Linked DNA regions of Homo sapiens. The protein of the gene in region 1 interacts with the protein of each later gene in a pairwise test. Each region holds a gene or a part of one and is shown on either strand. Other genes may lie near its edges.

The links.
Region 2: the proteins of NR1I3 (region 1) and MAP4 interact in a two-hybrid assay, tested with the Homo sapiens proteins (one study listed by BioGRID).

Annotation. Positions count from the first base shown.
Region 1 is NC_000001.11:161,229,169-161,235,486, reverse strand, and holds the end of NR1I3 (nuclear receptor subfamily 1 group I member 3), read left to right. Parts: intron 1-2,148; coding exon 2,149-2,318; intron 2,319-2,540; coding exon 2,541-2,680; intron 2,681-4,012; coding exon 4,013-4,158; intron 4,159-4,241; coding exon of another isoform or gene 4,242-4,253; coding exon 4,254-4,370; intron 4,371-4,553; coding exon of another isoform or gene 4,554-4,568; coding exon 4,569-4,674; intron 4,675-4,740; exon of another isoform or gene 4,741-5,560; coding exon 5,561-5,690; 3' UTR 5,691-5,714; coding exon of another isoform or gene 5,715-5,805; 3' UTR 5,806-5,818; downstream 5,819-6,318. UniProt on the Homo sapiens protein: Binds and transactivates the retinoic acid response elements that control expression of the retinoic acid receptor beta 2 and alcohol dehydrogenase 3 genes.
Region 2 is NC_000003.12:47,915,390-47,922,672, forward strand, and holds part of MAP4 (microtubule-associated protein 4), read right to left. Parts: intron 6,490-7,283; coding exon 6,376-6,489; intron 3,453-6,375; coding exon 3,330-3,452; intron 1,786-3,329; coding exon 562-1,785; intron 1-561. UniProt on the Homo sapiens protein: Non-neuronal microtubule-associated protein. Promotes microtubule assembly.

The DNA.
Region 1 (6,318 bases):
ACCATTCTGGCTAACACAGTGAAACCCCGTCTCTACTAAAAAAATACAAAAAAAATTAGCCGGCCGTAGTGGCGGGCGCCTGTAGTCCCAGCTACTCGGGAGGCTGAGGCAGGAGAATGGCGTGAACCCGGGAGGCGGAGCTTGCAGTGAGCCGAGATCGCGCCACTGCACTCCAGCCTGGGTGACAGAGCCAGATTCCGACTCAAAAAAAAAAAAAAAAAAAAAAAAAACACCAAGCGCACTCTTCCCCAAGGCTTTTCCACTTGCCATTTCCTCTACCTGAAATGCTTTTCTCCTAGATAGCCACATGGCTAGTCTTGTCTTTTCTTTTCTTTCTATTTTTTTTGATAGAGTCTCATACTCTGTTGCCCAGGCTGGAGTGCAGTGGCGCCATCTCGGCTCACTGCAACCTCCGCCTCCTGCGTTCAAGTGATTCTCCTGCCTCAGCCTCCTGCATAGCTGGGATTACAGGCATGTGCCACCACACCCAGCTAATTTTTTGTATTTTTAGTAGAGATGAGCTTTCACCATGTTGACCACGCTGGTCTCAAACTCCTGGCCTCAGGCGATCTGCCCACCTCCGCCTCCCAAAGTGCTCAGATTACAGGTGTGTTTTTTATTTTCTATCTGTTGAGTATAGTGCCTGTCACCTAGTAGGTGCTCAATAACTTAATTAATGCTTTCTCTGTGCCAGGTAACTGTGCTATGCTCCCAAAGGAGGATGTAACTGGGGCTCACGGAAGTTAATTTGCCCAAGTTAATTCAACTAAAAACTTGTGCAGGCCGAGCACGGTGGCTCACACCTCTAATCCCAGCACTTTGGAAGGCTGAGACAAGAGGATTGTTGAGGTCAGGAATTCAAGACCAGCCTGGTCAACAGAGTGAGATGTCCTCTCTAGGAAAAGAAGAAGGAAGAAGAAGTTGTACAGTCAGTATTCAAACTCAAGTTTACCTGACTCCCAAACTCTTGCTTTTTCCATATCACACGATTCTCACTATGGAAGAATGAAAGGAAACTGTAGAAGTCAAAGGATCTTGGTCTGAATTCAAGATCTTGGTTTGATCTTGGATCTTTTGCAGAAGTCAAAAGATTTTGGTTTGAATTCAATCTATATTACTTATTTTGTGACCTTGGTTCTGTCACCAGAATCTAAGCCTGTCCACATTTCTAAAAAATGTGATTGGGCTGGGTGCAGTGGCTCACGCCTGTAATCCCAGCACTTTGGGAGGCCGAGGTGAGTGGATCACTTGAGGTCAGGAGTTCGAGACCAGCCTGGCCAACATGGTGAAACCCCGTCTCTACTAAAAATACAAAAAAAAAAAAAAATTAGCAGGGCGTGATGGTGGGTGCCTGTAATCCCAGCTAGTCAGGAGGCTGAGGCAGGGAGAATTGCTTGAACCCAGGGGGCAGAGGTTGCAGTGAGCCGAGATTGCTCCATTGCACTCCAGCCTGGGCGACAGAGTGACAGACTCCATCTCAAAACAAAACAAAACAAACAAAAAAATATATATATACACATATATATACACATATATACACATATATACATGTATACACATATATATACATATATACACATATATATACACACACATATACACACACACACACACACACACACACACACACACACACACACACACACACATATATATATGATGAATACCAGCCCTGCCTATCCTGGGGTTGTTTCATTCAGTGGGATTTAACCTCAGAAGTTTTGAAATTTTGCTAAAACATCAGATAAAGGTTTATTTGAAAGGATTATTTGATTATTTTTGAAGGATTATTTGAAAACATCATATAAAGTGATGTTCTAGGTATGAAGACCCCTCCCTCTACACTGTTTCCCCAAAAGCCCTCGCACCTTTCCTCACATCTTTCATACTTTCCTCGCCACCCTTCCCTTCTCCCCCACAGTGCAGTTTTCTGCTGCAGTTCTTCACAGGTTGGTGGAAGTGTATAGGAGCCCCCTGCCTCCTGGAGCCTCTAGGACTTTAGCCAAGCCCAAGAAAGTCTCAGGAATTCCCCCCACTGCCCCCATCCTTCGTTGTGCAGGGCAGCTGAGGGGCCCCAGATCAGGGACCAGCAGAGAGAAATGCTCTGCTGGTCTCAACAGCTTTGTCATGATCTCTTGCCTGGCACAGTGATACTGTCGGCAGAAGCCCTGGCATTGCGGCGAGCAAAGCAGGCCCAGCGGCGGGCACAGCAAACACCTGTGCAACTGAGTAAGGAGCAAGAAGAGCTGATCCGGACACTCCTGGGGGCCCACACCCGCCACATGGGCACCATGTTTGAACAGTTTGTGCAGTTTAGGGTGAGCACCGACAGGATTTGGGTTGGAATACAACTAAAAGGGCACCCAAAAATGCTGGTCTGAAGGAGAGGGGTGTATGCCATGCACTGATACTGAGAACAGATCTCCAGAACCCCAGCCTGAGCAGGCTTCTCAGCAAGGAACTCTTCCAAGATAAGGCTGGCGAGGCCTAAAGGAGGGCCCTAGGGCCAGAGCCTCTAGCTAATGTTCTGATCATTGCAGCCTCCAGCTCATCTGTTCATCCATCACCAGCCCTTGCCCACCCTGGCCCCTGTGCTGCCTCTGGTCACACACTTCGCAGACATCAACACTTTCATGGTACTGCAAGTCATCAAGTTTACTAAGGACCTGCCCGTCTTCCGGTGAGTGACCTCCCCTCATCTTTCAGGAGGCAAACACTTCAGTAAATTGTATATCCACCCCGAAAAGTCACTGACTACAAATTATCACATGCGTCAGCCTTTCCAAGCATTAGGTCTTGAATTCCCAGCTTTGGTTTTAAATGTGCCAATCAGAACTGGGAGTTCTTCTCCATCTCTGAAGTACAGGCTTGCATCTAAAGTGCCCTTGAGGTGCCGCGCAGTGGCTCACACTAGTAATCCCAGCACTTTGGGAGGCGGAGGCTGGCAGATCGCTTGAGTCCAGAAGTTTGAGACCAGCCTCAGCAACATGACAAAACCCCAACTCTACAAAAAATACAAAAATTAGCTGGGCATGATGGTGGGTGCCTGTAGTCCCAGGTACTCAGGAAGCTGAAGTGGGAGGATCACTTGAGCCCAGGAGGTTGAGGCTGCAGTGAGCTCAGATAGCACCGCTGCATTCCAGCCTGGGTGACAGAGTGAGACTCTGTCTCAAAAAATGAAAGCTAAAAATAATAATAATAGGCCAGGCACGGTGGCTCATGCCTGTAATCCCAGCACTTTGAGAGGCCAAGGTGGGTGGATCACTTGAGCTCAGGAATTTGAGACCAGCCTGGCCAACATGGTGAAATCCGTCTCTACTAAAAATACAAAACTTAGCTGGGTGTGGTGGTGGGCGCCTATAATCCCAGCTTCTCAGGAGGCTGAGGCAGAAGAATCACTTGAACCCAGGAGGCGGAGGTTTGCTGTAGCCGAGATCAGGCCACTACATCCAGCCTGGGTGACAGAGCAACACTCTGTCTCAAAAATAAATTAATTAATAAGAATAATAATAAGGTGCCCTTGTCGGCTGGGCACAGTGGCTCACACCTATAATCCCAGCACTTTGGAAGGCCAAGGCAGGAGGACTGCTTGAGCCTAGGAGTTCGAGACCACCCTGGGCAACATAGTAAGACTCCATCTTTACAAAAAATAAAAACATATAAACAAACAAAAAATTAAAAAGTGGGCCGGGTGCAGTGGCTCATGCCTGTAATCCCAGCACTTTGAGAGGTCAAGGCAGGTGGATCACCTGAGGTCAGTAGTTGGAGACCAGCCTGGCCAACATGGTGAAAACCCGTCTCTACTAAAAATACAAAAAATCAGCCAGGCATGGTGGCACACGCCTGTAATCCAAGCTACTTGGGAGGCTGAGGCAGGAGAATTGCTTGAACCCAGGAGGCAGAGGTTACAGTGAGCAGAGATCACGCCACTGCACTCCAGCCAGGGTGACAGTGAGACTCTGTCTCAGAAAAAAAAAAATTGAAAAGTGTCCTTGTTTCCTGCTTTCCACAGTTCCCTGCCCATTGAAGACCAGATCTCCCTTCTCAAGGGAGCAGCTGTGGAAATCTGTCACATCGTACTCAATACCACTTTCTGTCTCCAAACACAAAACTTCCTCTGCGGGCCTCTTCGCTACACAATTGAAGATGGAGCCCGTGGTGAGATGGTGCTAGAGCAATAGGGGGCATGTGTCCTCATGGTACAGGATGTGGTCAGGTGACCTAGAGGCTCCTAATCCTAGTATCTCCCACAGTGGGGTTCCAGGTAGAGTTTTTGGAGTTGCTCTTTCACTTCCATGGAACACTACGAAAACTGCAGCTCCAAGAGCCTGAGTATGTGCTCTTGGCTGCCATGGCCCTCTTCTCTCCTGGTGAGCACCTCCCAAAGCCCAGAGCCTTTTGCTGCACCACCTCTGCCCAAATACTCAGCTCCTTGAGTCCATCCACCCAGGCCTTCTAGCCTAGCTATCAAACCTGCAGACTAGGTCTATCCCAGCCTCAGTCCCCGGGGCACCACGCAGGCCCACCCCTGCCACCCAACTTGTCCTTCCCAGCTCCCTATCTTACAGACCGACCTGGAGTTACCCAGAGAGATGAGATTGATCAGCTGCAAGAGGAGATGGCACTGACTCTGCAAAGCTACATCAAGGGCCAGCAGCGAAGGCCCCGGGATCGGTACGGTGGGACACTGAGGGCTTGGAGGCCACACCAGGGCAGGAAGGGGTTGGTGAAACATTGAGCTTGGGAGGAATGTTTTTTTACTGTCCTTTCCTTAGGGAATTCAGGTATCGTGGGGTCTAGTCCTTCCCCCTGGCCATCCCTGTCTCACATCGTTTCAGCATCCAAATTGCTGTATTTGGATACTGCTGTTTCATCTCACTTTTTCCAGATTTTTTTTTTATTCAGTACAGATGCAAAGTAGTAGCTCAGAGGCTCTGGGTAATAGCATTCCTGAGATTGATGACATCCATTACCTCACTAGTCCAACTTCTCCAGACTAACGCAGACTTTTCTCTTCCCTTGGCCTTTCCTCTCCTCGCCATTGGGCCAATTCCTTCGATTTCTCATTTCCCTTGAAGTTAGGGCCATTCACAGTTTCATGGTCAAAGCCAGTTCCAGGTTCAATAGTCTGTGATTTATCCAGGCTCTGAGGTATGCACCGCTTCTGTTTTGCTCGTTCCTCCAAGAGCTAGTTTGGCCAGAAAGGGGATGCTTTATACCATAGAACACATCCACCTTCTAGAACCTGCTCTAGAAGGCCAGGCCCTCAGATTCCACATGGTTGGAGTTCTGGCCAAGTCTGGAGCTTTCTTCACACTCGGCTCTCAGAGCTCTGGGTTCAGAAAAAACTGAGCATGGTGAGAGAAGACAGTGTCAGACCGAGGCCCCCTGGAGGACCTTTGGAACCTCTGATAGTCTGTCATACCAGAGCATGATTTTCTCTAATGTTCAGACCTGGCTTCACTGAGGAATAGTTCAGGGGATCAGGGCCTAGAGACAAGACTCCCAACTGCCTTATTTCCCTCCTGTTTTCCTGGCAACCCCACTACTTCCTCCAAAGGTTTCTGTATGCGAAGTTGCTAGGCCTGCTGGCTGAGCTCCGGAGCATTAATGAGGCCTACGGGTACCAAATCCAGCACATCCAGGGCCTGTCTGCCATGATGCCGCTGCTCCAGGAGATCTGCAGCTGAGGCCATGCTCACTTCCTTCCCCAGCTCACCTGGAACACCCTGGATACACTGGAGTGGGAAAATGCTGGGACCAAAGATTGGGCCGGGTTCAAAGGGAGCCCAGTGGTTGCAATGAAAGACTAAAGCAATAACTGCCTCTTCATGCGGTCATGGGGATAGTGGGGGTGACCATAGGAACAAAGTTGTTCTCTGGAAGCACAGAAGATGGGAAGGAGGAAACCTCAGGGCTAAGAGGTAAAGAAGCTCCTTCTGGGAATGGGTGGGCCCCACTTCCTGAGACCAAACATCTAGCCCTTCAGCCCTACTTTCCCAGCCTTGGGAGGCTCTGGGATGGAAAACAGGATGGTCAGCTAATCCCATGCAGGATTAACCAAAGGGAAAGGAAGAAGGAAGCCTGAGGGCAAGGGGTGCCGGGGGAATTCAGCCATACCCCTTAATCCTTCTCCCTTAGTCCACAGCCACAAGAGCATGGGGAAGGTGATACTGGGGCTGGTAGCAGAGGGGGGATCCTCAAACCTCTGCCTCATCAACTGCCCCTGTGGCAGCTCCAGTTCTGAGGAGGGCATGGTCCTGTCCACCACTCTGCTCCTGGGTCCTAGAGATCACCCAGCAAGGTGGGCTCTGAAGA
Region 2 (7,283 bases), on another chromosome or scaffold:
ACAGGTGTGAGCCACCATGCCCGGTCAATGTTTCGTTTTTTAAGATGGGAAAAATAACAAACGTTTGTTAAATGGGTGGGAATGATCCAATGAAAAAAGATTTAAATTGGTATGAGGGGCAAAAAAGGGAAGAATACATGGGGCAATATATCGAGTAGGAAAGAGGAGATGGAATCTAGGGCAAAATGAGGAGAGGTTGGTCTTAATTAGGAGCAGGAACAGTTTACTTATAAAAACGGGAACTTTCATAAGCAGAGACCATGGATACAGATACAAGTAGTTGGGTAGATAATGGAATAGAAGTTTGTCGATGTTCTATTTTATTGCTTGACTTATCTGCAAGAAAAACAGGACAATCAGCAGAGAATGAACATAGAAAAGGTGTTGGAGGTGGGAGGAGGGTAAAGGCGGGAAAGAGTTGTCTAGGAGAGCAGGAGTATGAATAAACTTGCAAAGTACAGTGTGACTGTCTGTACTTTACCTGGCATGATGTTTGTCCTTAGTCTTCTCGAGACTACAACCTGGTAGAGAGAAATACTGAGAATAAGCACAAGCACGTACCTGGTGAAATCATGAAAGTAGGTGCAGCTGACTGCCCCACATCCTGCAGAGATTCTAAATGGGAATCCTCACTTATTCCTTTTTGTGTTTGTGCAATTTCCATGTCTTTAATTGGAACTGGTGTTGCCTCTGTTTCTGAGAGTGGTGGAACATCTTTGGCTGGAGTCACATTGTTGGCCAGGGTCAGAACCCCATCCTTAGCCAGGGGTGCTTCTGTTTTGAGGGCTGGGACCTGATCCTCAGTCAGGGCCACCTCCATTTCTGGAGGCAGACATACGTTCTTGATGAGAACTACTTCTGTTTCTGGAGGTGGAGTCACATCCTTGCCCAGAGCCATTTCTGTTTCTGATAGTGGAGACATGTCCTTCAACAAGCCCACTTCTTTTACTGTGGACGGAGCCACATCCTTGGCCGGGGCTATTTCTGTTTCTGGGAGTTGAGCCATGTCCTTGACTGGGGCCACCTCTGCTTCTAAAGGTAGTGCTTTATCCTTGGTCAAGATCACGTTGGTTTCCGGGGGCAGTGTCATGTCCCTGGCCAGGGCTACCTCTGTTTCTGAGGACAAAGCCACCTTCTCAGCAGAGGATATTTCTGTGGATGATATAATGTCATTAGCCTGTGCCACCTCTATTTCTGAGAGTAATACCAAATCCTTGGCTGGGACTATCTTGTTTTCTTTGGGTGGTCCCATGTCCTTGGAAGGAGCCAAGTCCATTTTTATAGGAGATGCCCTCTCTGTTTCTTTCTTGTTTTCTTTGGGTGGTCCCATGTCCTTGGAAGGGGCTAAGTCCATTTTTATAGGAGATGCCCTCTCTGTTTCTTTCAACAGTGTCACATCCTTGGCTGGGGCTACCTCTGTTTCTGTGGGCAGTACCACATTCTTGGCTGAAGATACATCTGTTTCTGTGGGCCATCTGACATCCTTAACCAGGGCCACTTCTTTTTCTGTGGGTAGTTCCATGTCCTTGACTAGGGCCATATCTGATTCCATGGATGGCTGCATGTCCTTGGCCAGTGTCACATCTAATTTGGTGGGTGATTCCATATCTTTAGCCAATGCCACCTCGGTTTTTGTAGCTAGTGCCATGTCCTTGGCGAGGGCCATCTCTGTTTCTTTAGATGGTGCCATGTCAGTAGTCTTCAGTCCCATCATTATTTCCAATGCTTGTGCTGGTGGCCTCTCTTCTGATGCCATTTCTATCTCCTTGGCTAGCTCTAAGGGAACTAAATTGGAAATTTAGGACACATCATTGTCTACTCATACCTTTGCATTAAAAATGCTTACTTTCTTCAGGCATGAGAGTATTTGGCTTTTGTGACCATAAGACTGTACACATAACTAAGAATTAATGTTAGGCCGGGCACAGTGGCTCACGCCTGTAATCCCAGAACTTTGGGAGGCCGAGGCGGATGGATCATCTGAGGTCAGGAGTTCGAGACCAGCCTGACAAACATGGTGAAACCCTGTCTCTACTAAAAATACAGAAATTAGCCATGCAGTGGCAGGCGCCTGTAATCCCAGCTACTTGGGAGGCTGAAGCAGGAGAATTGCTAGAACCCAGGAGGCGGAGTTTGCAATGAACCGAGATCACGGCATTGCACTCCAGCCTGGGGGACAGGGCAAGAGTCCGTCTCAAAAAAAAAAAAAAAAAAAGAAGAAGAAGCTAATGTCAAGTAACATATTCTGCCTACTCTTTGACAGTCTCAACACTTGGAAGAATAAGATGTAAAATACTGGGAGGACAAGTAGTGGAGGAGAAATGGCAAAGAAGAGAGAAAACATAGGCTTCAAAAATAACACGGGCACAGAATTAGTATTAGAAAGATAATCTGTGGGACAGCAGGTCAGTCATGCTTCCTATCAAGAAAAACTCCAGAGTTCTAAATCTGTACTGAATTTTTGTTTTTGTTTTTTGAGACACGGTCTCACGCTGTTGCCCAAGCTGGAGTGCAGTAGCATGATCTCGGCTCCCGGGTTCAAGCAATTCTCCTGTCTCAGCCTCCCTAGTAGCTGGGATTATAGGTACACGCCACCACGCTGAGCTTATTTATTTATTTATTTAGCTCTTTCACCCAGGCTGGAGTGCAGTGGCGCAATCTCGGCTGACAGCAACCTCTGCCTTCCGGTTTCAAGTGATTCTCCTGCCTCAGCCTCCCTAGTAGCTGGGATTACAGGCACCTGCCACCACGCCCAGCTAATTTTTTGTATTTTTAGTAGAGACGGGGTTTCACCATGTTGGCCAGGCTGGTCTCGAACTCCTGACCTCAGGTGATCTGCCCGCCTTGGCCTCCCAAAGTGTTGGGATTACAGGCGTGAGCCACCGTGCCTAGACCAATTTTTGTATTTTTTGTAGAAATGGGGTTTCACCATGTTGGCTGGGCTGGTCTGGAACTCCTGACCTCAAGTGATCTGCCTGCCTCAGCTTCCCAAAGTGCTGGGATTATAAGTGTGAGCCACCACACCAGGCCGTAAATCTGTACTGAATTAAAAAAAAAAATTCTGATACCTAATACAATGAAAATGTGATGAAAAAAATATATATATGTTAAAAAATTTAAAAAAAGTATTTATGTGCCCGTTAACCCTAAGTGTTATAGTTCAACAATTTAATTCCTCCAGTGGTGATATCACTAATATAAGCAAAACATTTGTGATTGTTCTGAAATTTTTATACCTGCTGTAAGCTGCTAAAAAATACACCTGATGATTTATATTGATTACCAATACTGCAACCATTAACTGATAAAGGGAGTCTCTAATAGTTTACCTGCCGTTGGCTGAGGAGGTTCTGCAACAGCCTCTGGGGAAACAAAGGACTCTGAGTGTGGAGAGTTTAAGGCTTCCACAGACCACCCCTGAGGTACAACAGCTGTGTTGCAGGGAGACATACCTAATATTGAAACACAAACAAATACATTTTGAAACTTAGTAAACATTGGAAACAAAAGGTATTTGATATATTTTTGTTTTGTTTTGTTTTGTTTGTTTTTTTTTTGAGACAGAGTTTCGCTCTGTTGCCCACGCAGACAGAGTGAAGTGGCGTGATCTCGGCTCACTGCAAGCTCCGCTTCCCGGGTTCACGCCATTCTCCTGCCTCAGTCTCCCGAGTAGCTGGGACTACAGGCGCCTGCCACAGCTCCCGGCTAATTTTTTGTATTTTTAGTAGAGGCGGGGTTTCACCATGTTAGCCCGGATAGTCTCGATCTCCTGACCTCTTGATCCAACCGCCTCGGCCTCCCAAAGTGCTGGGATTACAGGCGTGAACCACCGCGCCCGGCCTAAGAGGTATTTGATATTTAAAATCAGCTGCATATATTGCCAGGAAGACACAGACTAATAAAAAACAATGCAAAAAAAGTTTTTTTTCTTTTTTTGAGACAGAGTCTCGCACTGTCGCCTGGGCTGGAGTGCAATGGCACGATCTCGGCTCGCTGCAATCTCTGCCTCCCAGGTTCACGCCATTCTCCTGCCTCAGCCTCTCAAGTAGCTGGGACTACAAGCACACACCACCACACCTGGCTAATTTTTTTGTATTTTTAATAGAGATGGGGTGTCACTATGTTGGCCAGATTGGTCTCGAACTCCTGACCTCATGATCCACCCGCCTTGGCCTCCCAACGTGCTGGGATTACAGGTGTGAGACACCGCGCCCGGCCGACAACGCAAACAAGTTTTAAAGGAAACACTGCTGACATTCTTCAGGTTTTAGCTAGTTGTTAGTAGGTGGTATAGTATATCCCAGTAGTGCCATTAATCAACATTCACTGGCTACTTTCTATATAATATATAAAGGGTAATATAAAGATTCAAAATATTAATGATTGAACTCTAGTTCCAACACCACAACCAACATAATATACTATAGTAAAAAACTGCGAGTCTTAATTTCTTCATCTGCAAAATGAGATTAACACCTCCCTTTCCAACATTAGAAGACAATTTTATTAAAATACTTTGTAGCAGTTTTGTTGTTGTTGTTGTTGTTGTTGTTTGCCCAGCTAATTTTCTTATTTTTATTATATTTATTTATTAATTTTTGAGATGGATTCTTGCTCGTTGCCCAGGCTGGAGTGCAATGGCACAATCTCAGCTCACTGCAACCTCCACCTCCCAGGTTCAAGTGATTCTTCTGACTCAGCCTCCTGAGTAGCTGGGATTATAGGTGTCTGCCACCACTCCCAGCTAATTTTTGTATTTTTAGTCGAGACAGTGTTTCACCATGTTGGCCAGGCTGGTCTCGAACTCCTGACCTCAGGTGATCTGCCCACCTCCGTCTCCCAAAGTGCTGGGATTACAGGCATGAGCCACCACACTCGGCCTAATTTTTCTATTTTTAGTAGAGATGGGGTTTCACCATGTTGGCCAGGCTGGTCTCAAACTCCTGACCTCAGGTGATCTGCCCGCCTCTGCCTCCCAAAGTGCTGGGATTACAGGCATGAGCCATTAGGCCCAGCCTAATTTTTGTATTTTTAGTAGAGACGGGATTTCACCATTTTGGCCAGGCTGGTCTTGAACTCCTGGCCTCAAGTGATCCATCCGCCTTGGCCTCCCAAAGTGCTGGGATTACGGGCGTGTGCCACTGCACCCAGATGGTTTTTTTTTTTTTTTTTTTTTTTTAAGACAGGGTCTCAACTCTGTTGTCCAGGCTGGAGTACAGTGGCATGATCATGGCTCAATGCAGCCTCGACCTTCTGGGCTCAAGCAATCCTTCCACCTCAGCCTCTTGAGTAGCTGAGACTACAGGCATGTGCCACCACGCCTGGATGAATTTTAAAATTTTTTGTAGGACAGGATCTCCCTATGTTGCCCAGATTGGTTTCAAATTGCTGGGCTCAAGCAATCCTGTCACCTCAGCTTCCCAAAGTGCTAGGGTTACAGGCATGAGCCACTGTGTCTGCCTGTAAATGAAGAAGTAGAAAAATGTGGCTGGGTGCAAAGGCTCACGCCTGTAATCTCAGCACTTTGGGAGGCTGAAGCGGGTGGATCACTTGAGCCCAGGAGTTCAAGACCAGCCTGGGCAACGTGACAAAACCCCATCTCTACAAAAAATTAGCCAGGCATAGTGGTACACACCTGTAATCCCAGCTGCTCAGGAGATTGAGGTGGGAGGATCACCTGACCAGGAGGCCAAGGCTGCAGTGGGCCGTGATCGCATCACTGCACTCCAACCTGGGTGACAGAGTGAGACCCTGTCTCAAAAAAAAGGGGAGATGACAGCCCAACTGTGAATCTGTGAATTGTCTCCTTTGATTAATCCAAAGAGAGCCTTGTCACACCCACAGCCCCTAAATCTGACTTTTCTTAGTGGTTAGCTTCAAAGGTGATGTGTGAAAGGCCATGTTGATTGTTTGGCATTAAACAACTAAAGGACACCAGAATATGCCACCCCAAAATACGCTACTTTGGCATAAGGACTTTTTTAAGCTGAAGGCTATTATTAGCCTGGAGATGGCACCATAGGAATCTACACAGCAACCTTTACTAACTAGCTTTTACCTACCATTTACCTGTCTCCCACAATTTGCGGCCCCTAGAGACTCAAAAGTCTTTTCCTTCATCTTCTCACCTCTCAAAAAAAAAATTTGTCATTCTTTATTGAAGAAGCTATATAAGGTGGAATTCTAAAGCCACCTCTTGCGGAGTTACTCATTCCCTAGGTACCTCTCATGTACATATTAAATTCACATTTTAAACTTTGGTCTCTTTTTTCTTGTTAATCTTTTGTCACAGAGCCCTAGTCAGTGAACCAAAGATGAGTAAAGAAAAAATTTTTTTCCTTCCCTACAGAATAAATCCATTTGAAGAAGCCATACCGTAACTGTCTTTCAAGGGATCATTTTGTCCTGCAAATATTGAAGTATCAGCTGTCGCACTGGAGGGAAAGACCAAATCTGCCAGGTCATCATCATGGTACATCTTAAAGGGATCTGGAATATAGAAGAAATCCAAAACTCATTCCTGGTGAATGCAACTAGAAAGATTAATATTTCTTTCTTTCTTTCTTTTTTTTTTTTGAGGTGGAGTCTTGCTCTGTTGCCAAGGCTGGAGTGCAGTGGTGCCATCTTGGTTCACTGCAACCTCTACCTCCCAGGTTCAAGCAATTCTCCTGCCTCAGCCTCTTAAGTAGCTGGGATTACAGATGCCCGCCACCATGCCTGGCTAATTTTTGTATTTTTTTGTAGAGACAAGGTTTCTCCACGTTGGCCAGGCTAGTCTCAAACTCCTGATCTCAAGTGATCTGCCCACCTCGGCCTCCCAAAGTATTAGGATTACAGGCGTGAGCCACCATGCCTGGCCAATATTTCTTATTATCCTATGATGAATATAGATGAGTTGTCAATAGTAAGTAAACCGAAATCATATGTGACTGCACATGGTAGAGAATCAATATTCACTAATTCATTTGTTATGAGTTAATAATAAATAATCCCTTCTCTAAGATTTGGTTATGTACATCAGATAGCCAACAAATGCATAAAACAAAAAGGGCAACTAATGCTCAGCTGTATAACAAACACTCTGAGAGGTGAAAGTATAAACTAAATTTTCAATATATATTTATATAACATTCATTTTAAGTTACTTTTTAAAAAGACAGAGCCATTAACAAGCTTAAAAAAAAAAACCAACAAGTAATTTTTCACCTCATGTGGACATGATGAAGAAAACTGCATTTCAAAACTGTCTGAATGGGACAAGATAAACAATTGTTATCCTAACA